Linked DNA regions of Homo sapiens. The protein of the gene in region 1 interacts with the protein of each later gene in a biochemical or structural test. Each region holds a gene or a part of one and is shown in the gene's direction. Other genes may lie near its edges.

What was found. Proteins that work in one complex are often made in the same cells at the same time.
Region 2: the proteins of TANK (region 1) and ZC3H12A form a complex in vitro, tested with the Homo sapiens proteins (one study listed by BioGRID).
Region 3: of the proteins of TANK (region 1) and MARCHF5, one has a biochemical effect on the other in vitro, tested with the Homo sapiens proteins (one study listed by BioGRID).

Annotation. Positions count from the first base shown.
Region 1 is NC_000002.12:161,155,430-161,163,430, forward strand, and holds the start of TANK (TRAF family member-associated NF-kappa-B activator), read left to right. Parts: upstream 1-4,998; 5' UTR 4,999-5,057; exon of another isoform or gene 5,058-5,121; coding exon of another isoform or gene 5,122-5,393; intron 5,394-5,519; exon of another isoform or gene 5,520-5,858; coding exon of another isoform or gene 5,859-5,983; exon of another isoform or gene 5,984-7,932; coding exon of another isoform or gene 7,933-8,001.
Region 2 is NC_000001.11:37,470,150-37,477,589, forward strand, and holds the start of ZC3H12A (endoribonuclease ZC3H12A), read left to right. Parts: upstream 1-4,430; 5' UTR 4,431-4,480; intron 4,481-5,309; 5' UTR 5,310-5,347; coding exon 5,348-5,790; intron 5,791-7,440. UniProt on the Homo sapiens protein: Endoribonuclease involved in various biological functions such as cellular inflammatory response and immune homeostasis, glial differentiation of neuroprogenitor cells, cell death of cardiomyocytes, adipogenesis and angiogenesis.
Region 3 is NC_000010.11:92,308,155-92,315,176, forward strand, and holds part of MARCHF5 (E3 ubiquitin-protein ligase MARCHF5), read left to right. Parts: intron 1-2,980; coding exon 2,981-3,183; intron 3,184-7,022. UniProt on the Homo sapiens protein: Mitochondrial E3 ubiquitin-protein ligase that plays a crucial role in the control of mitochondrial morphology by acting as a positive regulator of mitochondrial fission and as an important regulator of immune response.

The DNA of each region.
Region 1 (8,001 bases):
TTTAATTTTGACTCCTTCTCGAATAAGGGAAGCATATCTTCAATTGTTTCAGAAAATGGGTGGTATGATGTTTGAACCTTGAGGTATCTGAGAATGTCTTTGTTTTCCTTTTCTTGAATAAATGATAACTTGAGTAGGCAGACACTATAGGTCAAATCTTTCCCAGGCAACTGTAGATGTTATTCTATTCAGCTTTTGAAGTTTACTGCTGAAGACAAGTTTTTCTTCCTTTGCAATTAATTTTTTTTCCACCTGGATTCTTGTCGAACTTTTTCCATAACTTAGATACCAGAAGCCTTCCTTCACCCTCTCAAGGCTGGATGATGGACTTTCCAATGTGTTTTCAGAGTACCATATATTACCCCTAATGTAAAAATCATAATACCACATTGTATAGTAATTGCCTGATTCTTGTATGTATGTCACCCAGTATAGACACCAAGTTCTTTAAAGGTAGGACAGTGTCTTAGTGATCTTTCTATCCCTAATTCTTAGCACATAGCAAATATTCCCAAAATATTCACTGATTAAATTAATGACTTGATAGGGCATTTAATATTGAAATTTTTAACAAGATAGGTCATTAATATATTTCAAAACACATTGAGTCCTTTTCATTTTTACAAAGTATTGTATTGGTTCAAAGTATTACTTCAGATAGCTTCTGATATATCTGTGGTTGCCGTCTCTGTTCTATTTACCCCAATTTCTTCTTCAGGAAGAAGTTGGGGCATAATCTTTCTACCATTTCCTTTAATGGTTGTCACCTATTTGTACTTTCCAGTCATATTTTGGAAGAGTTTTTCAAGCTTTTACTCTAATCATTGATTTATTATTCTGCAATACTGATTCCATCTTTGATTATGTCCAAATTATATGTGAATTTTGCCATTGCATGTTGTTCTGTGTCCTTACAGACTTAACTTATCCAACTTTGGTTTTATTTCACCTTGTCTCTAGTTCCCTCCTTATCTTAGTCTAATAGCTTATCATGTATTTCATCTCTTTTTGCATAGAAAATACAAAGCAGATTCTCTCCATATACTTCTGCTTCTGGTAAATAATTTTCCAAAGTATTCACTTTCTTTGTATTTTGAAGACTCTCTTTCAGACAGCATAATCTTTTCAAAGGGATGCTTTCTCTTGAATTACTCGTTCCAAGCCTTGTGTCAACCTTACTACCTGAATGTGTGGATTTTGGTTCTTGGCTCTTCTCATTATCTGTCTGATGCTATTAAGTTCTTCAGCATAGATGTTGAACTGGAAGACATATAGACATGCACAGTCAACAGCTAACTTTTTGGTTTGAAGCTGACATTTATCAACTTTGTCACTGCGGGTGTTGGGCTGAGGTGAGATTCCTTACCTTTAATAGCTAGTTATTTTACTATAAAGAGAAGAATTCCTGGTTAATCAGAAACAATGATTTGTCTTTTTCTTGATAAGAACCATATATGAAAAAGTAAACCCCCAGAGAAACAAACACCCAGTTCTGTCTGCCCAACCCCTTTCATTATTAGTTTCCTAAGCTTGGACACAGAGCATTACACCTATCCACTCCCTTTGGGTTATTGCTGGTATTCTCTAGGCCGTAGCTCCAAAATGGGTCATAGAGTGGAGAAACTAATGGGAGAGATTAGGGCAAAGAGGTGTAAAATACTTCTTAGCCATCACACATAGTAGTGGAATTACTAGTAGGGGCCGTGAGGCAGGTAGCTTCCTTACTATCCTTCCATACCAACACCTTTGATTGCCTTCCAACAAAAAAGTACATGTCCATTTCAGCTTCACAGTTCTTGCAATAAGTCCAGTATCCTATCAAATTCTGGAACTAGGGTGCTTGTCAACAGGGTTATAGCTGCTCTTATGGTACTTTTCTGTGAGTTAGAAAAAGCACCTCTCTGAGAAGACACAGGCTGAAGGAGGCAAGGCTTTGCAACTGAGCACAGCCTGCTCAACCATACACAGTGGCCCTGGTTGTCAGTCTGCCTTCCAAGGCCATTGTGAGTTCTCATGTTTTTCTGATTTTTCATAGCCATTTTAGTTGGAGAGTCTGCAATATAATCAGCCAGTCCAGATGTCATCGTAAATCAGAAGTCAACCAGATTCCATTAATAGTGATATTGCACATCAAAGATTTGACTGAGAACATAACTGACATTCCAAGTCATAGTAACTGTTTATATTGCCAGGTTTCCTTGTCCTTAGGTTTATATTCAGAAGTCTCAATAAATTATTAAGCAGTTTTAAAACTAGGATTCAAAATATTTTTGAGACAGAGTCTCTCTCTGTTGCCCAGGCTGGAGTGCAGTGGCGTGATCTTGGCTCACTGAAATTTCTGCCTTCCGGGTTCAAGTGATCCTCCTGCCTCAGCCTCCCATATAGCTGGGATTACAGGTGTGCACCACCAAACCTGGCTAATTTTTGTATTTTCAGCAGAAACGGGTTTTCACCATGTTGGCCAGGCTGGTCTCAAACTCCTGACCTCAAGTGATCAGCCCGCCTTGGCCTCCCGAAGTGCTGGGATTACAGGCGTGAGCCACTGCACCCGTCCAGGTTCCAAAATATCTTTTAAAGGCCTGCAATTCCCTCATTTTCTTTTAATAATAATTCATTAATTAATATTATTAAATAGAGACGTGGTCTCACTATGTTGCCCAGGCTGGTCTGAAACTCCTGTGCTCAAGTGATCCTCTGCCCTTGGCCTCCCAAAGTGTTAGGATTATATGTGTGAGCACCACACCTGGTCAGTTCCCCATTTTCATGCCACCATACCCAACCTCCAAAGCCACATCACTGCTCACTAACTTGAGGTATATAATAATATGAGTGAAGGAAAATTGGAATAAAATTATGTCATTATTTTAAAAGATTATTCCTCAAATAAATGTCAACTCAATTTCTAACCTTTGTAAAACATACTGTATGTGAATTCTTAAAAAATCATCATTATAGGAAAAGGAAAATGTTTGATGCCATTTTAGCATTGATTACAAAATAATTCTACCAGCATTTATGCATATTTCACATACAGGGGAATTATGCAGCCACTTCTCTTCAAGACTACAACATCATGGAAGTGGAAAGAGAAAAATACGCATTTAAGAAATGTGTATATCTAGCTATTTCCTTATTCAAAGTTTTTAGCACCTCCATATTTCAAAATGCCTATGCATTCAGCTTTAGACTCTGAGTATATTACTAAATTCCACTATTTCAATCAGAAATCTTCAAATCAGCTTATTTAATTTGCTCAAGCAGTGCTGAATAAACTGGACTTCATCAAAATTAAGAATTTCTGCTTTGCAATAGATATTGTCAAGAGAGTAAAAAGACAAGCCACAGACAAGGAGAAAATTTTTTGCAAAAGACATATCTGATAAAGGACTTATCAAAAATACAAAGAACACTTAAAACTCAACATTTGGAAAACAACCTGATTAAAAAATGGGCCAAAGGCCTTTACCTCCCCAAAGAAGTTAACCAGATGGTAAATAAATAGCCATATGAAAAGATCCTCCACGTCATATGTCATCAGGGAAATGCAAATTAAAACAACAATAAAATATGACACACATCTATTAGAATGGCCAAAATCCAGAACACTTACAACACCAAATGCTGGCAAGGATTTGGAGCAACAGGAACTCTTATTCATTCCTGGTGGGAATGCAAAATGGTAGCCACTTTGGAAGACAATTTGGCAATTGCTTACAAAACTAAACATTCTCTTACCTTATGATCCAGCAATCATACTACTTGGTATTTATCCAAAGGAGATGAAAACTTATGTCCGCACAAAAAAACCTGCACACAGATATTTATAACAGCTTTTTTTCATCACACTGGGGTGAGGGATGTTGATAATGGGGAAGGGCTATGCTTGTGTCGGGGCAGAAAGTATATGGAAAATCTCTGGACATTCCTTTCCATTTTGCTGTGAATCTAAAACTGCCCTCAAAAAAAGTTTAAATAATTTTTTTAAAGCAGTACTGTATTGTGATGTTTAACTCAATTACTTATTACAAGAAAACTATTCAACTGGTCAAAACGTTATATATAAGAAGTTTCTGTTTGTTAAAAACATTGTTTCAAATATATTTAGGCTTTGACTTTTAAAAGTATACAGCAACATTCAAGATAACTAGACAGAATGCACTGCAACTTGGCAGGTTTTTAAATCCTTGGACTTACTGGCCTAAGGAAAGATGTGTAAACATCCATGATTCAGAAATACAGGGAGAAATTGGGGCAGCCAGACCTCATCCTCTTGCCCTAAAGGGAAAAGATATCTTTCTTGCGGTATCTAAGATATGAATCTTAGATAATATTCATGCATGGCTAGGAATTGGAATAATGGGAAAGTCTTAATTCATGGGAAATTTTCTAATAAAGTTCCACCTCCATTTCCAGCCATTCCTCTTTAACAAATACATTTAGTGAAAAATACTACCAGTTGGGGAGAAACCAAATGGGTATGTGTATATGTAGTGTTTCTCAGAGTGTGGACTTTAACCACGTTTAATTACATAAATTTACGAGGATCTGTTGAAAATGCAGGTTCCTGGGCTTCACTCCAGTTGCTCTGAAATGAAAGCTGTAGGAGTCGGTTGGTGAAACTACATTTTGTTTCTCAGGTGATTCTTGTGTACTCTAACTCATATATAGGGTGATGTTATTTATTTACTGGTTATTTATTTACCGGTTATTTATCGTTTGGCAAAAAAATCCAGCAAAGACTCACAAGTGACCTTTACACTTGACATAGGATTCTCTTCCGCTGCTGACGCTTTTTTTTTCTAAGAGGCGGGGACTTGGCTGGGCAGGGCTGGGGGAGGGCGCTAGGCGGGGCGGGCAGGGGCGGGGCAGAAGAGCCCTGGGCTGGGTGGGGCAGGGCGGAAGGGCCCTGGCCTTGTTGGGTGGAGGTGAAGAGTTAATGGCTCCGCGCGCAGGCACTGCCCTCTGAACTGGAACAAAATGCAACTTCCGGTTGGAGTCACTCGGCCAGGCGCCGGCGACCTGAGGGGAGAGGGAACGCAGCTGAAAGCGTGAACTGTGTGAGTAAGAAACTTTGTGAATTGGTGTGTCCGAATCCGTCAAGCACGACGTCGGAGAATTTGTATGCGTGAGCGAGAGGGACGCGCTGACAGTAGGGGCGCCGCAGGGAGAGAAGCCGAGGAGCAGCGGAGACAACCAATTTGCAGTTTGGGGAGGGATTTTGTGCGGGAGAAACCACGCGAGTCCTTCCCCCGGAGCGGACTCCTTGTGGGTTGGTTTCCGGGCCCGCGATGTCAGCATAGCATCGTCGGCCTCTGCCCCAACGGCTTCAAGGGAGGGACTCGTCCCGGCTGCTTTGCCCGGGAAATGGGGGTGGAAGGGCCTGCGGTGTCGAGGTGAGCAGTGGACCCTCCAGGAACATTCCCGACTTCCCTTCGGGAGAGAGACTGCCTCCTAGAATCAAGTAGTATCGTGGTTACTCTTTCGAAAACTTAATTGGTTCTTTCTGTTGTTTTCCCAAGGTGGTTGCACAATTCCCCTCTGCCTTCCTGTGGGGTGTCATCATAGCCTGGTCAATGAGAAGTTGGGTAACTTCCCAGAGGGTCACGGAGGGAGTGGGTGGCCAAGGCAGGAAGAACAGAAGCCAACCCCGCCCACAGTGGGAACCCAGGCGTTAGGTAGAGTCCTCACGCCGGTGTAAACTGACTAGCAACGAGTTACAGGCAAAAAAGCTGTGCTTTTCTAGAAGTAGAAAGGGGGAGGATAATCAAAGAAGAGCTGTGCCTTTATTGTTATGCTATAACGAGCAAAAGTAAAGCAGCCTTGCTATGTAAAGTGGTGTTTATCTCACCTCACAGGAGATGCTTTTGACAAGTTATAATAAGGGAGAGATGGTAGTAAAGGAAGTGAAGAAGCGACGTGAAATTGAAGGAAAAGAAAATGACCTGCCTTCTTACCGCGGTTGGAATACACACCCAAACGAGAGGTAGCAGAGAAGCAAGCAGTGCATTCTGTTAAAAATTATTGTGTCCTCATTTGAGAGAGGAGGGATCCTCAAATAATACAACTATGTGCAAAGCAGGAAGTGAAATCCTTCTCAGTCCTCTCCCCAGTTGTAATCCAAGCCTTCCACATCTTTCCTGTATGTGCATAACCATGTTATTTTGCTTTCTTATGAAAATGAGATTATGCATACTGTTCGATAATCTGTTTCAGATTAAATATATATATATGGTGAAAGTCTTGCCATATGTAGCTCTATTTTATTGTAATGTTGGCGTGGTACTGCATTGTGTAGATGTACCAAATTATAGTTAACTGTCACTTACTATGTCCTGTCCGTATATATTGCCCAGTATTCTTCAAAATTATCTGTTTCTCATTAGACTACAGATTTCATTAATCCTTTGTGAAATATATGGCAAATATTTTCAAGAATTATCAATGCTTTGGTTTAAAATGCCCAGGCTTTTTATCTCAGGTAAGAAGGTAGTCCCCACTCAAAAATTCTTAAAATCTTCTCCTATATTGCCTGTTAATTCTCTTTTTATGATTTACTCATTAAAACATCTGAAAATGATTTTTGTATGCTAAGATAAGGATTTAATTTTTTTCTTTGTTTTTATGACTAGGCAGCCATTTTTTCCTGAAATCATTTGTTGAAATCATTTCTCTCCCAACTGACTAGAAATACCTCCTTAATATAGTAAATTCTCAAGTGTACATGCATCTTTTCTTTAGACTCATCTGTTGCTTTGATCTTTTTGTCTCTTCCTTTAAAAATACCAATCTGCTTTGATATTACGTTTTCTAGTAATTCATAGGACAAGTCCCTCTTCATTTTTCCTTTTCAAAATTTTCTTGAATATAATTGCATTATCTTTGAGATAAAATTTAACATAAACTGTTCATGCTTCATTAAAATACTCTTTTTGGGATTTAACCATTATATTTTCTTATATTTTGTGACTGGTATGTAGATGAGTGTTTATGTATCTGGCCAACTTTCTAAATTTATTAATTTTAATAAATTGTTTCACTTGAATTTTCTAGGAAAACAATCATCTAATTATAATTCATCTTATCTCTTTCTTTCTTTGCTTTAGTGAATTGCTGGCTTCCCCAGAATAGTGGTAAATAAAACAGTGATTCTGGCCATCCTTTATCTTGTTTCTTAGTTTGGGGATGTTTTTATTATGTCATCATTAAATATGAAGTTACTATTAATATCTAATAAATTATATTTATCAGGGAAGTTTCCTTTAATATTTCTAGCTCATTGTGATTTTTGCAGAGAACTGTTTGGATTGCATCCAAAGTCATTTTTGCAACTGGGGATGGGGAGTGTCTATTGTATTAGATAGCACTTTGAGAACAATTTTAAATAATAGATATTGGATGTTCATTTGGTGTGTATATTCATTACTTCTTAACATTTTTATCAGGAATGGAAGTTGGATTTTGTCAAATGGCTTTTTGACATCTATCATAACCTTTCATAGGTACTTTTCATCTTTGACCTAACAGGATAGTGAATTACTTTAGTATATTTGCAGTTTGTGAACCAATCTTACGCTTGGTCATGGTGTAATATTTAAGTATATATTGGTTCCTTTGGTAGCATTTTTATTTAAAATCAATGATTGAGATTCATTTTATACTCACCTTTTTCTGTTATTTTTGCTAGGTTTTGGTATCAAGGTTATGCTGGTTCCTAAAAAGAACTGGGCAGAGTTCCTCTTCCTCCGCTCTGATGTAGTTTAAATAGCCTAAGAACTCTGCTCTTTGAAGATCTGAAAGAATTCACTCATGAAACCATGTGGGTCTGGGAGTTCATTGTTCTTAAGACAGCAACAATACTCAGCAAAATGGTTCAGAACAAACAAAAACTCCTTGGAGTAAATACAATTGAATGAAAGAGTCTGGGACACGGTAATGTCAAGAACTAAGAACAGCTGCTGTACTGATGCTGGTTATTTCCCCCCTACACACAACTTTTTTTTC
Region 2 (7,440 bases), on another chromosome or scaffold:
CTAGAGGAGAAACAATCTGCATTCATTATTGGAAATTCTTCTGTAAGGAAGACTTGCCTCTTCTCCCCCAGTAGGTTATTGATTCAACAATTTATTTATATCAGGGCTGGGTATGGTGGCTCATGCCTTTAATCCCAGCACTTTGGGGGACCAAGGTGGAGGACTATTTCCGGCCAGGAGTTCAAGACCAGCTTGGGCAACATAGCGAGATCCCCATCTCTACAAAAAAAATTTTTTTAATTTGCCAGGCGTGGTGGTGCACAACTGTAGTCCTAGCTACTCAGGAGGCTGAAGCAGGAGGATCGTTTAAGCCCAGGAGTTCAAGGTTACAGTGAGCTATGATCACGGCACTGCACTCAAGCCTGGGCGACAGAGCAAGACCCTGGCTCTGAAAACAAAAAAATTATTTATATCAGTATAAATATTTATTTTATACTTTAGGTTATAATTCAATATTATCCTATTATTTATTCCCTTGCTCAGTTGCTCCAGCTTTGGCCATAGGGAGCTCTTCTGGCTCCTGGATCCCTTTGACGCACTCCCATCCTTTTGTGTTTTGAGCGCTTCCTAAATCCCTGGCACCACAGCACACTGCCGGCTCATCCTTTCCCTGTCCCAGCCCTAAAATCAGCCATCTCTCCAAGGAAATAATGTATTTTTAATACAAGTTCTCCAATTATCTTGTCAATAGTCCAAATATATTGCACCGCATTTGAATGCATGATTTAAAAAAAAAAGAGTTAATTTGTTCAGTTACCGTTTAAAACATACATTGATTTTTGTAGCCCTGCTGTGACATGTCTTTTTGAAATATACCAGGAGTCTGGCCGGGAGCAGTGGCTCATGCCTGTAATCCCAGCACTTTGGGAGGCCAAGGCGGGCGGATCACGAGGTCAAGAGATCGAGACCATCCTGGCTAACACGGTGAAACCCCGTTTCTACTAAAAACACAAAAAAATTATCCAGGTGTGTTGGCAGGCACCTGTAGTCCCAGCTACTGGTAGTCCCAGCTACTCGGGAGGCTGAGGCAGGAGAATGGCATGAACCTGGGAGGCGGAGCTTGCAGTGAGCTGAGATCGCGCCACTGCACTCCAGCCTGGGCGACAGAGCCAGACTCCATCTCGAAAATAAAAAATAAAAAGAAATATACCAGGAGTCTCAAACATGGGAGGGATCTGGTCCTTTCTTCACTTCTAGGAGGCCTTGTTGAATTTAAACATCACCTCAGCAGCCACTCCCTTAAGGCTTGAGGGCAGCCTGCCCAGCCTTTCTACAGAGGTAGCCCAGTTCCCGGGTCCTCCCCAGGCTGAGCTGCCCAGTGAAGCAACTGAAAGCCAAGGTCATTCCTGGGACCTTTCCCTCTCCAACCTCATCTCCCAACCCCCCACCACCCTCAGGCAGTGACCAGTCCACAAGCTTTGCAGACCCCACCTACGCTGGCTGGGCACAGGCAGATAGATGGTGGGAGGCCAGGCAGGCTCCAAGAAGGAAATTAGCCAGCCCAGCTGCCAAGACAGGCATACGAGAGGCAGAGGGGTTTGTGTGGGCTCGGCTTCAGAGAACTCCTGGGGATTAGGGCCAAAGTTTGCAAAATCCAGCTGTAAACGGAGCAGGGGTTCCCCAAAGAAGCCGTGGGTTCTGTAGAGGAGAGTCGGCTTCTTGGGAAGTAGCATGAGCCGGAAGACAGCGAGACTGTGGCTCTCTCTGGGAGGGCAGGGAGCAGCATGACTCATCGCCTAGTCCTGCTGGCTCCTACTGGCACAGGGCTGGGCAGCAGAGGGTCTGGGAGCAGGAGCAGAGTCTGGTCTTGTTGCAGCTCCAGAGGAGGTCTCAGGCTGGCAAAGACAATCTAACACGTTGGGACATAGGCAGGGTGTTGTGGGGACACTTAGGAGGGTACAACCAGCATCAAAGGAGTCTTGGCTGGCCTCACAGAGGAGGTGACATCATCCAAAAGATGAATGGAACTGGCTAGGAAGCAGCTGGGTGGGAGAGAGGGAAGGGCACTCCAAGCCAAGGAAGAAGCAGAGCAGAGGCCCGAAAGTGTCTGCAAGGCGCTAGCTGGTGCCTGCCACCCAGTGAGCACTCTATAAATGGGAGGCATTATCTCTATGATTGATTAGTATTGTCATTATCATTATTAACCTGGACACATCACTTAATGTTTTTACTATCTTAAAGGTAGTTGCTATAGCGAATAAATGCTTAACATAACTGAGCTCTTCTCATCTGTAAAAGGGACTGTTGTGAGGTTAGGGGTGCCGCCGGCACCGCACTCAGCTGGAGTGACAGCAAGCATGTGAGGTGCCCAGCATGGGATGTGAGCTGGCATGCAGCAGGGGGCCTTGTGTTTCCTCTCTCCTTGGGTTGCCAAGCCCCTGGAGCTGCTGTGCCTGGGGAGCAGAGAAGGGGACACTTTGGGGTCTTCAAAGATGACCAGGCAACAAAGCAGGAACACCGCTAGGTAAGAGCAAGCAAGCCCAGAGGAACAGCCTCAGGGTCCAGATAGAGACGTACACGCCTGCCTCCCTGGGGTCTTTGGTGGCCTCCCGAACAAGCAGGTGTGGATGGGGAGATGGACTGCCTTGGAGAGAGCTACATGAGTTCCAGCTCCACCAGCCCCCAGAGCCTGAGCAGGTGACTTCACCTTTCTGAATCTCTGAACATCCATTTCCTCCACTGTACAATTTCATTAAGATACATACAAGAATATCCAAAGCACAGTCTTTGTAATAGAAAAAAAATCCTAGAAACAACATCCAACAGCAGGTGACTGAATAAGTAACCAGTGGTATATTCATAAAATGGGACACTATTCAGTAGTAAAATAAATTACAGGTATGCAGGCAATCAAAATGGATTTTTAAAAATATAATGCTGTATGAAAAAGGAAGTCACATAATTATGGAATGACTCCGTTTACACAAAGTAAAAAATAGCAAAACTATACAATATCCCACTTAGGGATGCATACAGAGGTGGTAAAACTACAAGAAAAAGCAAGAGAATGACTAGCACAATTAAAGTTCAGGAAACTAGTTCTTCAGGATGTGGGCAGGAGGCTGTGATGGGGGCACCCAGAGGGCCTCAAGGTACTGGCACTGGTCTATTTTTTAAGTTAGGTGATGGATACATGGCTTTTTTATTATTACTATTATTCTTTAAGCTGTACATGTACAGTTGTGTCTATGGTGTCTTTTACAATAAACAAGTATTTATTATAACACTAGCACTTATAGGATACATGCCTATGATGAGGTAGAGAGAATGTAACAAAGGACTGGCACATAGTAAGCACTGGTGGCATGTGGCTCTGTCCTCCAGCGTGTGGGCTCTGTGTTTTCTCTCTCTCTCTCTCACTCACACACACGCACGCACACACACACACACACATAGGAAGCCAGGCTCCCCTCTGCCCTCAGTCACTCGTGGTTCACAAAAATGGCAAATAATAGGAGCACTAGAATAGGAGCTCTCCATCCTGGTTCGAGTCTTTCCAGCTGGGGCAGTTTAGCCTTTGCAGAATTTCTCAAGGGTAACATCAGCATAATGACCTCTGTCTGTAAGCCCGTGAGTGTAAGCCTGTAAAGTGCTGTGCTCATGCGAGGGATCAGGTCTGACCTGGGAAACTAAAAGCATCTTCATGGAGCAAGGGTGCTCCTCCAGTGGGGGCGCTCAGTGAGTTCTGCGGTATGGGTGACAGTATTCTTGTGTGGACAGTATTCATGTGGTGATTGGGGTAAATGGCCCTCTTTTGCCTGGTTTTCTGCCTCGGTCATTGTGCATCTGCTGACTGAACCTGCCTTTTGGTCCTAGTAAAGTACAGATTTCAGGAAAAGTGTACCTGGCCCCGGGGGTGGCCAACCTCTGTGTGACGGCTTTAAGCACAGTGTGTCTTGAGGGGGCCTGACTCCATCTGAAAAGTGCCTGTCTGGATGTACCTGTCTATAACCATGGACCTGCCTCCAAGGTGCGTGGACCAACCTCCGCGTACCTGATTCACTCGATGCGCACCTGGCCGTACGTAGCTTCATCAGGCAGGGTGTACCTGTCAAGTTCTTAGGTCCGAGTGTTCGCGGCTTTACCTGTCCTGGTACCGCCGTCCGCACCTCGGTCAGTGCGTCCCCGGCAGGTGCGTGTACCTGATTCAGTCCGTGCTTATCTTGCGCATACGGGCCGTTCAGTGTCCCGCTCGGAGCTCGTCGCCGCCGCAGCCTTGAGGCTCCGACCCCCGCTTGGGCCCCGTCCGGCGCGCAGCGGCCGCGGGGGCGGGGCCGCGACGCGAGGAGCGGAGCAGGAAGGGGCGAGGCAGCCCCGCCCCCGGGGCGGTCTCCCGGGACGGCCCCGCCCCTTGCCCGCTTCCGCGTCAGTGCCTCACCACCACCTGCCCGCGCGCCGCCCCATATAAAGGCGCCGCCGTCCTTACCCCCAGGACTCGGCCCCATGGAGACGCCGCCGGCCGCCGCTGGCGCATGGCGGGGTGAGGCGCGGCGGGGAGGGTGCGGGCCTCGGCGGGGAAGCGGCAGGGAGCGCTCCGGCGGGGTCCGAGCCGAGCCGAGGGGAGGGGACGGGAGGGGACGGGAGGGGTGGAGAGGGGAGGGGACGGAAGGGTCGGGGTCCTGTTCCCCGGCCCGCCGGGCCTCAGGACCCCTCCAACTTTGCCCAAGTTGGGAGAGCCGGGGAAGAGCACCAGGTTCCTGATCGGGATCGCGGGCCGAGCAAGCGCGGGTCTCGGGCCGGGACAGCCTCGGCGTCACCAGCTCCCGGCAGCCAACCAAAGTTTTCCAGCAACTTTTCTCCCCACGGGTCACCCCAGAAACTTGCCCTCCCCGGCTCCGGGAGTCCGGCCATGGGCCTTGCGCTGCCTGGGCCTGAGCTCTGAGTGCCGGACGGGTGGGCGAAAGTGGTGGCCTCAGTGGGGAAGCCTTGGGCCCCGCAACGCACTTCCAGCCCCAGGATTCCATCTGAGAGCCCCGTCCCTGCCTTCTGGGTCCCCTGGGTTGGCGTGGGGGTTCGAGGCTTTACAGCTGGGGTAGTTCCAGTCTTAGTTCAGACTAAGTTCCGATCTTCGAGCCACCAGCTAACAGCTGGATGACCTTGAGCACGTTTTTAATGTCTGTGCCTCAGTTTCTCCCTTTATAGAATGGGAATGGGAATGCCTAGCTGGGAGAGCTTTTGAGAGGACAACCTGAACTAATAACACGATGCAGTGTGTAGTGCCACCAATCCCTCATCCTGCTGGATGTGGTTTTGGGAGGGAGGTTAGGAGAGAGCGCTATTCACCGTCCCTAACCCTGTTGGTTGTTCAGTAGGAGCTGTGGCGCGGGGCCTTCCAGGAGTCTGAGCTATGAGTGGCCCCTGTGGAGAGAAGCCTGTCCTGGAAGCCAGCCCCACCATGAGTCTGTGGGAATTTGAGGACAGCCACAGCCGTCAGGGCACCCCAAGGCCGGGTCAAGAGCTGGCCGCTGAGGAGGCCTCGGCCCTGGAACTGCAGATGAAGGTGGACTTCTTCCGGAAGCTGGGCTATTCATCCACGGAGATCCACAGCGTCCTGCAGAAGCTGGGCGTCCAGGCAGACACCAACACGGTGCTGGGTGAGCTGGTGAAACACGGGACAGCCACCGAGCGGGAGCGCCAGACCTCACCGGACCCCTGCCCTCAGCTCCCTCTAGTCCCGCGGGGTGGTGGCACCCCTAAGGCTCCCAACCTGGAGCCTCCACTCCCAGAAGAGGAAAAGGAGGGCAGCGACCTGAGACCAGTGGTCATCGATGGGAGCAACGTGGCCATGAGGTAAGTGTCACTTCTGTGGCCAGGACACATGAGGTTCGCATCTCTCCTGTGGCCAGGACACATGGAAGGATGACTGTCTCTGCAGCTCTGGTGGGCTGGAAGAAGTGACTTCCTTCTTAGGGACTGGTCTAGAGGGAGGGAAAGCCTTTTATGAGGCTAGGGTCGCGCTACTGGTAAGTGACAGAGGCAGGGTTCCAGCCCAGGTCCCTCTGTCCGCAGAGCTTACCTTATGCTGTGGGTCCCTCCCTGAGGCCAGCACTGTGTCTCCACTCCTCTCCTGTAATGTGAGGCAGGGCTGTAAAGGGGACCAGCCCGTGGGCAGCTGCTCACTCACCCCTCGGAACCTGATCTCAGGTGGGTGTTGTGAGGAGGGAGTGTGCGGATCCCGGAGAGGAGCAAGCGTTCAGGAACCATAGTAGTGGTAGTAGGCAGTGGTAGTAGCAGTTGTTGTTGTTATTTCAGGGGCTGGGCTTCTGAGGCCTTCTTGTCTCAGACCTGGGCTCCCACGAAAACAGGTCCAGTGACTGTGTCCAAGAGTGACCTCAAGGCTGGGTCCAGCTTTACATGGGTTGTGGGCAGGTGGCCTGATGCTCTGGCCTCAGGCGAGCTGCAACTTGGATCCCTACTGACTCAGCTGAAGCAGCCTGGGCTGGACCAGTCTCTGGAGGTTCCCCGGGGCCAGAGCCAGGACTCAGCCCCCAGTGACTCCCACCCCCATCCCCCAGCACAGGAATGGGGTGGGGAGGTAGGGGCAGAGAGGGAAGCCAGGGCTGCTGCTGACCTTGGGAAACCCAGACTTCTCCCGTCAATCCAGGCTCCACCCTCTGGCCCCACTTTTTTCCCAGTTCCCTCCAAGGCAGGCTGATGAGTCAGTGCTGGGTGGATGGCTCACAGGGAAAAGTTCCTGTTGGCATGGACGGGGAGACCCCAGACACAGGGTTGAGAAGGGATGATTTTCTGGCTGCCCTGAGGGAGCTCCTAGGTGGGCTGCCCAAGGCTGGCATGACATCAGCCTCTGCCCTCCCTAATTTGTGGCCCCTGTGGGACAAGTTCACTGTCCAGCTGGCCCTGGCCCAGCTCAGCAGGCATGCAGCTGAGTGCTCTTCCCTCCTTCTGTCACCTTCAGGCCAGTCTTCCTCTCTCTGACTTGGGCTGAGCCTGGATGGGAGGCTGAGAAAATCCAGTTTCCATGCCAAGAGGCAGCAGGTCACAGCCCATGCTTCGAGATTAGAAGGGGTCCCTCTCAGTGTCCAGCCTCATGTAGCTGGGCTAGGAGCTAGGTTGGATCTGTGTGACTCCTTCCTCTGGAGGTATGGGCCAGGAGCGGCTGAGCCCTGGGAGCAGCCATATGCAGTATGTGTTTGTATCCAGAAGGAGGAGGGACATGGGAGGAGGGGCTGTGATGAGGGGTGCTCAGAGGAGCCTGCTCCTGAGAAGCAGAGCCACGCACCCACCTCGGGGGTTTCTGAGCTGGGGTAGTGGCAGGAGGGGAATTCCAGCCTCAAACTTCCTGTCTCAGCTGCTACTCGGTTCCTGCCCGGCCACCCCCCCTCCCCAGGGGCAGGCGGGCTAGCCCCCCCATCATATGCAAATCATGGGGAAATTCACCTCTGTTTCCTTCTAAGGGAATTTTTTTCCACTCGCCAGGCC
Region 3 (7,022 bases), on another chromosome or scaffold:
ATGGTCTCGATCTCCTGACCTCATAATCCGCCCTCCTCAGCCTCCCAAAGTGCTGGGATTATAGGCATGAGCCACCGCGCCCAGCCTATGCTTCCCCTTTCTAGATCATATAGGGTAACTTCGTGACGTTGCCGTGGCATTTGTAAACTGTCATGGTGCTGGTGGGAGTGTAGCAGTGAGGACGACCAGGGGTCACTCGTGAGCATCTTGGTTATGGTGGGTTTTAGCTGGCTTTACTGCAACCTGTTTTATCAGCAGTATCTTTATGACCTGTATTTTGTGCTGACCTCATATATCATCTTGTGACTTAGAATGCCTTAACCATCTGGGAATGCAGCCCAGTAGGTTTCAGCCTCATTTTACCCAGCTCCTATTCAATCAAGACGGAGTTGCTCTGGTTCACATGCCTCTAATACTGCTATTTCAACTGAAAGCCTAACTCCTGATAAGTACGCACTCTGAATCATCATTCAGCTATCTTATTTACCATAGTTGTGAAATTAATTAGAAAAAAAACTGAAAGTGCATAAGTGCGTGCGTTGTTTGTTTTTTGTTTTTTTTTTTTTTTGAGACGGAGTCTTGCTCTGTTGCCCAGGCTGGAGTGCAGTGGCGCGATCTTGGCTCACTGCAAGCTCCGCCTCCCGGGTTCACGCCATTCTCCTGTCTCAGCCTCCTGAGTAGCTGGGACTGCAGACACCCGCCACCATGCCCAACTAATTTTTTTGTATTTTTAGTAGAGACAGGGTTTCACCGTGTTAGCCAGGATGGTCTCAATCTCCTGACCTTGTGATCCGCCCGCTTCAGCCTCCCAAAGTGCTGGGATTACAGGCTTAAGCCACGGCACCCGGCCAAGTGCATGCTTTAAATGTCAGTTCTAAAAAGTAAATCTGTACAAGTATTTAGGACTGAAATATACTGATGCCTGCAACTTTGAAATGCAGCAAAAAATAAGAATAATGAATGGATGTGTGAGAAAGCAAATATAGCAGAATAAGAATTATAGAATCTAAATGTTGGGTATATGGGTAGTCACTGAACAGTTTTTAACTTTTTTTGGAAAGTTTGAAATTTTTCATAATAAAATGTTTGGGAAAAATAAACCTTATCTAGAATTTATAAGGAATATAATAGCTACACAAGTATTCTCATTAGATCAAAATATGAAATTTGACCTATCTTTTCTGTAAGTCAGAAACAGATTAATGTAGACTATTTCAGTTGGTTCAACCTAGTCCTAACATTGTATTTTATTTTTCTGATGACTGAAATTGGATTAATTTAAAATGTGATTCACCATAATACTGATTAATTATGCTGATGTAGCTATTCTTATTTACGTTTGTGTTAAGAAAGTATGAGACTAAAGAGTCTCTAAATATTCTGCCAGTATTTTGTTGCTAAAATGATACATTCCATTTCCTAGATGTATACAAATATGTCCACAAAATTACCTCAGTTGTGGGGAAAAATATATACTAACAACATCTTAACCAGCCTGTGTGCTAGTATACTTACCAATTGAAATTTTATGCAAAAATCATAGGTTAGAACCCAGTCCTACTATGGGTAGTCTTGGTGGTTGCACAACAGTATGAATATACTTACTGCCACTGAATTATACACCTAAAAAATGGCTAAAATGGTAGATTTTATGCTATGTCTATTTGACGATAAAATTTTTTAAAAAAGAACAAAGTATTTTTGGACAACCATAAGACAATGTGAAGGCCCAGACAGCTTAGCTAAAGTGGGTCAAAAGGGTCAGAATGCTAAACAAATGCTACCTACGTTCTAATTTTACTTAGATCTTATGAAACCTGACTGAATTTGAAAGCTGAATAAAACAACTATTTTGGATATTGATGCCCTGGATTCAGTTCAACTTTTTTTCTGTTCTAATTGAAAAATTGTAATTGGAGCACACAATTGAAATTCATGTTGTTCCACAAGGACTGGAGAACCTCACCCATCTATAATACCTGAGTATATAGTCTTTCCCACTGAGCATAGTTAAGCTAGTTGTTCTGACAGAAGCCACTTATCCAATTAATTAAAAAGTGCACAGTAGGTAACATGCTTTAATTAGCAGTTGTTTCCACTTGTACAAGTTCTAATGGAGGGGAGGAGCGAAGGGTCTCATTGAATTGAACTGTATTTGCCCTGATGGAAATCGATGTCAAAACTTGTGTTAATTGGGAGAAAAACTGAGGAATTACAACCTAATTCCACAAGAAAAAATTACAATTCATGAAGTACCCTTAAAAGCAAAGTGGGAAAATGTTTTAAAATTACCGATCTCAATAGAATTTTATTTTTATTAATATAAGCACCCCAGACTTGATACTTCTAGATTTCAGATTTCAAGCATACACGCCCAAATTTATCATATTGCTATTCTAAAAAAAAAAATCTTGATATATTTATCTCCTTTGTGCTTTTTTGAAAATGTAATATTGTTTTCTCTCATGTTTATACTTTACCGGAAAGAAAAATGGGTTTTTTTTTCCTCAGCTGAAAAATGGAATGAGACTGTATGTGAAATCACTCGTGTAATACTTTGTTTTTCCAAGTTCAAGGGATTGGTGGTGGTGAACTGGGGAGAACACTGAATTTAATATATTACTGTGCTTACTATTCCTCAAAGAATTATTAGGTCTTATAACAAAAACAACTTGAGGTTTGTCTCCTTGCACTCTGGTTCATTAGAGAAGGTGAAGAATTACTGAAAAGATAGAGGAGATTACATAAAAACAAAGTTCAGAAAACATAAGTTCTGTAGAGGAAGACAAGGAAAAACAGAAAAAGTAGAAACTGCTCTAGTGGGAATGTATTGGTTGTTTTGTCTCCTTAGTCTTTTAATATAGGACAGAGATTCTGTAATATAACATAGCAGGCTCATCCCATTAAGTAAGAGCTGCAGTATAGAGGAGGCTGGAGTCCTAAAGATATAAATGTCATCCTTTTCTCTTTTAATTTACAGAAGTTGCTGGGTTTGTTTTGCTACTGATGAAGATGATAGAACAGCTGAATGGGTGAGACCATGCAGGTGCAGAGGATCTACAAAATGGGTTCACCAGGCCTGTCTACAACGCTGGGTGGATGAAAAGCAAAGAGGAAACAGTACAGCCAGAGTGGCATGTCCTCAGTGCAATGCTGAATACCTAATAGTTTTTCCAAAATTGGGTAAGAATATCTTTAAAAACAACACAGATATAGTTGATGTTATTATATATAACTTTATAAGTTCATTTTAAAATGAACCACCTCTTTTTTTTAGGGTGTGAATTTCTATATTCCCTTTCTCTTGTTTCCTCTCTGAATGTCAGACATTTATTTCTTTTGCTAACAGTTTACAGTATCCTTAATATATCCCCAAATTTATCCATTTGCCTGTGTATTAACTGTCTGTTTGATAGAAAGGAGAAAGAACTTGCATACCTGTGTGGATATAATTGAATAACAAAGCTCTAATAAAAAGCTGACTTTTAAAAAAAAAACTAACTTAGCTTAATTATCTGGAGACGGTGTAAGAGAAAGAAAGCAGTAGTATGTTCTAATACTTCTCCTTAATTCTTCCTTTTAAGGAATAAAAGTAGAGAAATTAAATATTTAATAAGATGTGACGTTAAACTCATCTTTGGAATCCAATTTATGTGGTTTCTTTCATGAACCCTGCTATCCCTTTTCTGTGAAGTGGCAGGTAAGAAATAACCAAAGATCTTTGAGAACAGGCCTAGCATGGAAAAAAAGTATAGCAGACTGCTTACAAGAAGCATTCTAAGGCTGCTTCTTTAGCAGCAGTATAACTAAGGCTGATATTTAGTGAGCCTGTTCCATTACAGCCATACAGTTATAAATTGGTGTCAATCTCTTGGTTTGGTGTTTATACCATGCCAGTTGTTAAACATTTTTTTATAACCCTTGACTGTAACCAAGAGGTATAGGAAGGCAGCTTGGGTTCTGGGAAGGTCATAAGGAAAGAATGTCTTTGGGGGCAGAGGGAATTCAGGAAAAATTGGAAATAATTATTATATATATTGTTTTTTATAAGTGCTATTCATACTGAAATCAGACCAATGTTTTTGAAAATGTGGCAACATAAATGCAGATAATGAAGTGCTTTTCTAATATGAGAAGATTAATAATAAGGGCAAACAAAATGTCCTTGGTTCTCTGTTTTTCTCTAACATGCACAGGAAGAAATGATAGCTTCCTTTGAAGGGGAAGTAGTGTAGTAGAGAAAGTAGTGTTTTCAAACATTTGGAATTTGTGGACCATGTGATGGGTCTTCAGTGCATACCACTGATTTTAGATAAACACAAAAGAATAATTCAAAATGTTTTTATTGTAAGATCAAAGAAGTATTTTTAAATCAGTATCAGGAAAAGCAATGATTGTTCACATTATTGTACCACCACATGAATGGTGAAAGACTCACTAAAGTCCAAGTTAAGGTTTCATATTTAACTGATTTCTTTTCTTGCTCTTAGTTGTACTAAATTAGATAGCCCCACCTTTGAATTATAGAGTTGGGAAGAGCAACAATTAAATATTTCTATTAGATGTTTTAGATATTCAAATGGACACAAAAATTATTACAAGAATTCTCACTGAAAACTACATCAAGTTGACAAGTGTATGGCACTCGAAAGCAAAGTTGAGTATTTTAATTTTGGAGATGGCAATGTGTAGATCTGTCCTTTTGGTTGAATTCAGTTCTAGGAAATATGTTTTCAGGTTTAGTGCAGTAATTGAATATGGTTTTAAGTCTACCTAGTTGTTAGAAAAGAGTAAATCTTGGCTGGGCGTGGCGGCTCACGCCTGTAATCCCAGCACTTTGGGAGGCAGAGGCGGGCAGATCACGAGGTCAGGAGTTCGAGACCAACCCGGCCAATATGGTGAAACTATGTCTTTACTAAAAATACAAAAGTTAGCTGGACATGGTGGCGTGTGCCTGTAGTCCCAGCTACTCAGGAGGCTGAGGCAGAAGAGTTGCTTGAACCCAGGAGGCAAAGGTTGCAGTGAGCCAAGATCGTGCCACTGCACACAAGCCTGGGCGACAGAGCCGAGACTCCATCTCAAAGAAAAAAGAAAAGAGTAAAACTCTTTGGTTAAGCCATTTGTATCATTATTTAGTCTGCATATTTTGTTACTAAGAATTGTGGCCGGGCCGGGCGCGGTGGCTCACACCTGTAATCCCAGCACTTTGGGAGGCCAAGGCTGGCAGATCACGAGGTCAGGAGATCGAGACCATCCTGGCTAACACAGTGAAACCCCATCTCTACTAAAAATACAAAAAAATTAGCCAGCCTTGGTGGCAGGTGCCTCTAGTTCCAGCTACTCGGGAGGCTGAGGCAGGAGAATGGCGTAAACCCGGGAGGCAGAGCTTGCAGTGAGCCAAGATAGCGCCACAGCACTCCAGCCTGGGAGATAGAGCGAGACGCCGTGCTAAAAAAAAAAATTGTGGCGGGTCACAGTGGCTCACACCTGTAATCCCAACACTTTGGGAAGCTGGGGCGAGTAGATTGCTTGAGACCAGCCTGGGCAACAGGGTGAAACTCCATCTCTACCAAAAATAACAAAAAAAAATTAGCTGGGCATGGTGGCACACACCTGTAGTCCCAGCTACTCAGGAGGCTGAGGTGGGAGGATTGCCTTAGCCTGTGAGGTGGAGGCCACAGTGAGCTGTGATTGCGCCACTGTACTCCAGCTTGGGAGACAGAGTGAGACCCTGTCTGAACAACAAAAAAGAATTGTGGCCAGTCATGGTAGCTCACATCTGTAATCCCAGCACTTTTGAGGCTCAGGTGGGTGGATTGCTTGTGGTTACGAGGTCAGGATCAGCCTAGGCAACATAGCAAAACCTTGTCTCTCTACAAAAAAGAAAAAGAAAAAGAAAAAAAATTAGCCAAGTGTGATGGAGCACACCTGTTGTAAGTCCTAGCTACTCGGGAGGCTCAGCTGGGAGGATCACTTGAGCCCAGGAGTTTGGGGCTGCATTGAGCTATGATTGCGCCACTACCCTCTAGCCTGGGTGACAGAGTGAAACCAATCTTAAATAAAAGAGAGAATTATAATTTTACTCTCAAATGATATGTTCAAGCTGGTCACTATACTGTCTGTCATAGAGGTATGGCACTTGAGTTAGCCGCTTAAAATCATAGATATGTTTTAATGACATCAGTGTTATAAAAAAAAATGAATATCCGCTGGGCACGGTGGCTCACGCCTGTAATCCCAACACTGGGAGGCCAAGGCAGGCGGATCACCTGATATCAGGAGTTCAAGACCAGCTTGGCCAACATGGTGAAACCTTGTGTCTACTAAAAATACAAAAATTAGCCAGGCGTGGTGGCAGGCGCCTGTAATCCCAGCTACTTGGGAGGCTGAGGTAGGACAATCACGTGAACCTGGGAGGCAGAGGTTGCTGTGAGCCAAGCTCACACCATTGCACTCCAGCCTGGGCGACAGAGCAAGACTCTGTCTCAAAAAAAGAAAAAAAAAAGTATATCCTTCATTTGAGTAGGTATTGTTAGCATATTTCCTCTTGACAAAACAGAAAAACAGAGTATTTGCTGCTGCTGCTTCCCCCCGCCCCCCCCCGCCAATAGAGGTTGGGTCTTGCTATGTTGTCCAGGCTTGTCTCAAACTCCTGGGCTCAAGCAATCCACCTACCTTGGCCTCCCAAAGTGCTAGGATCACAGGCATGAGCCACTGTGTGCCCAGCCTGCCGCTGCATTCTTAACATGCTGAAGATACCTATTCAAGGGCTGCAATTTTAATTATATTCACAATTTTCCATGCAGTTATTAACAATGACTCAAGCCAGCTGTTGTCTGTAAATGAAGCCATGTGTGAATTGGCTTTCAGGTGGTGGGCTCTTCATTGCTGCACACAAAGCTAGTGCTCTAGCTATGCTGATTCCAGCACAACTTTTCAATTCAAGTTTCAAAAATAATTGTTGGTTAAAAGAAAATATCTTCTTCTAAAACTTTTAAAAAGTTGCTTGTATTTCTTGATTA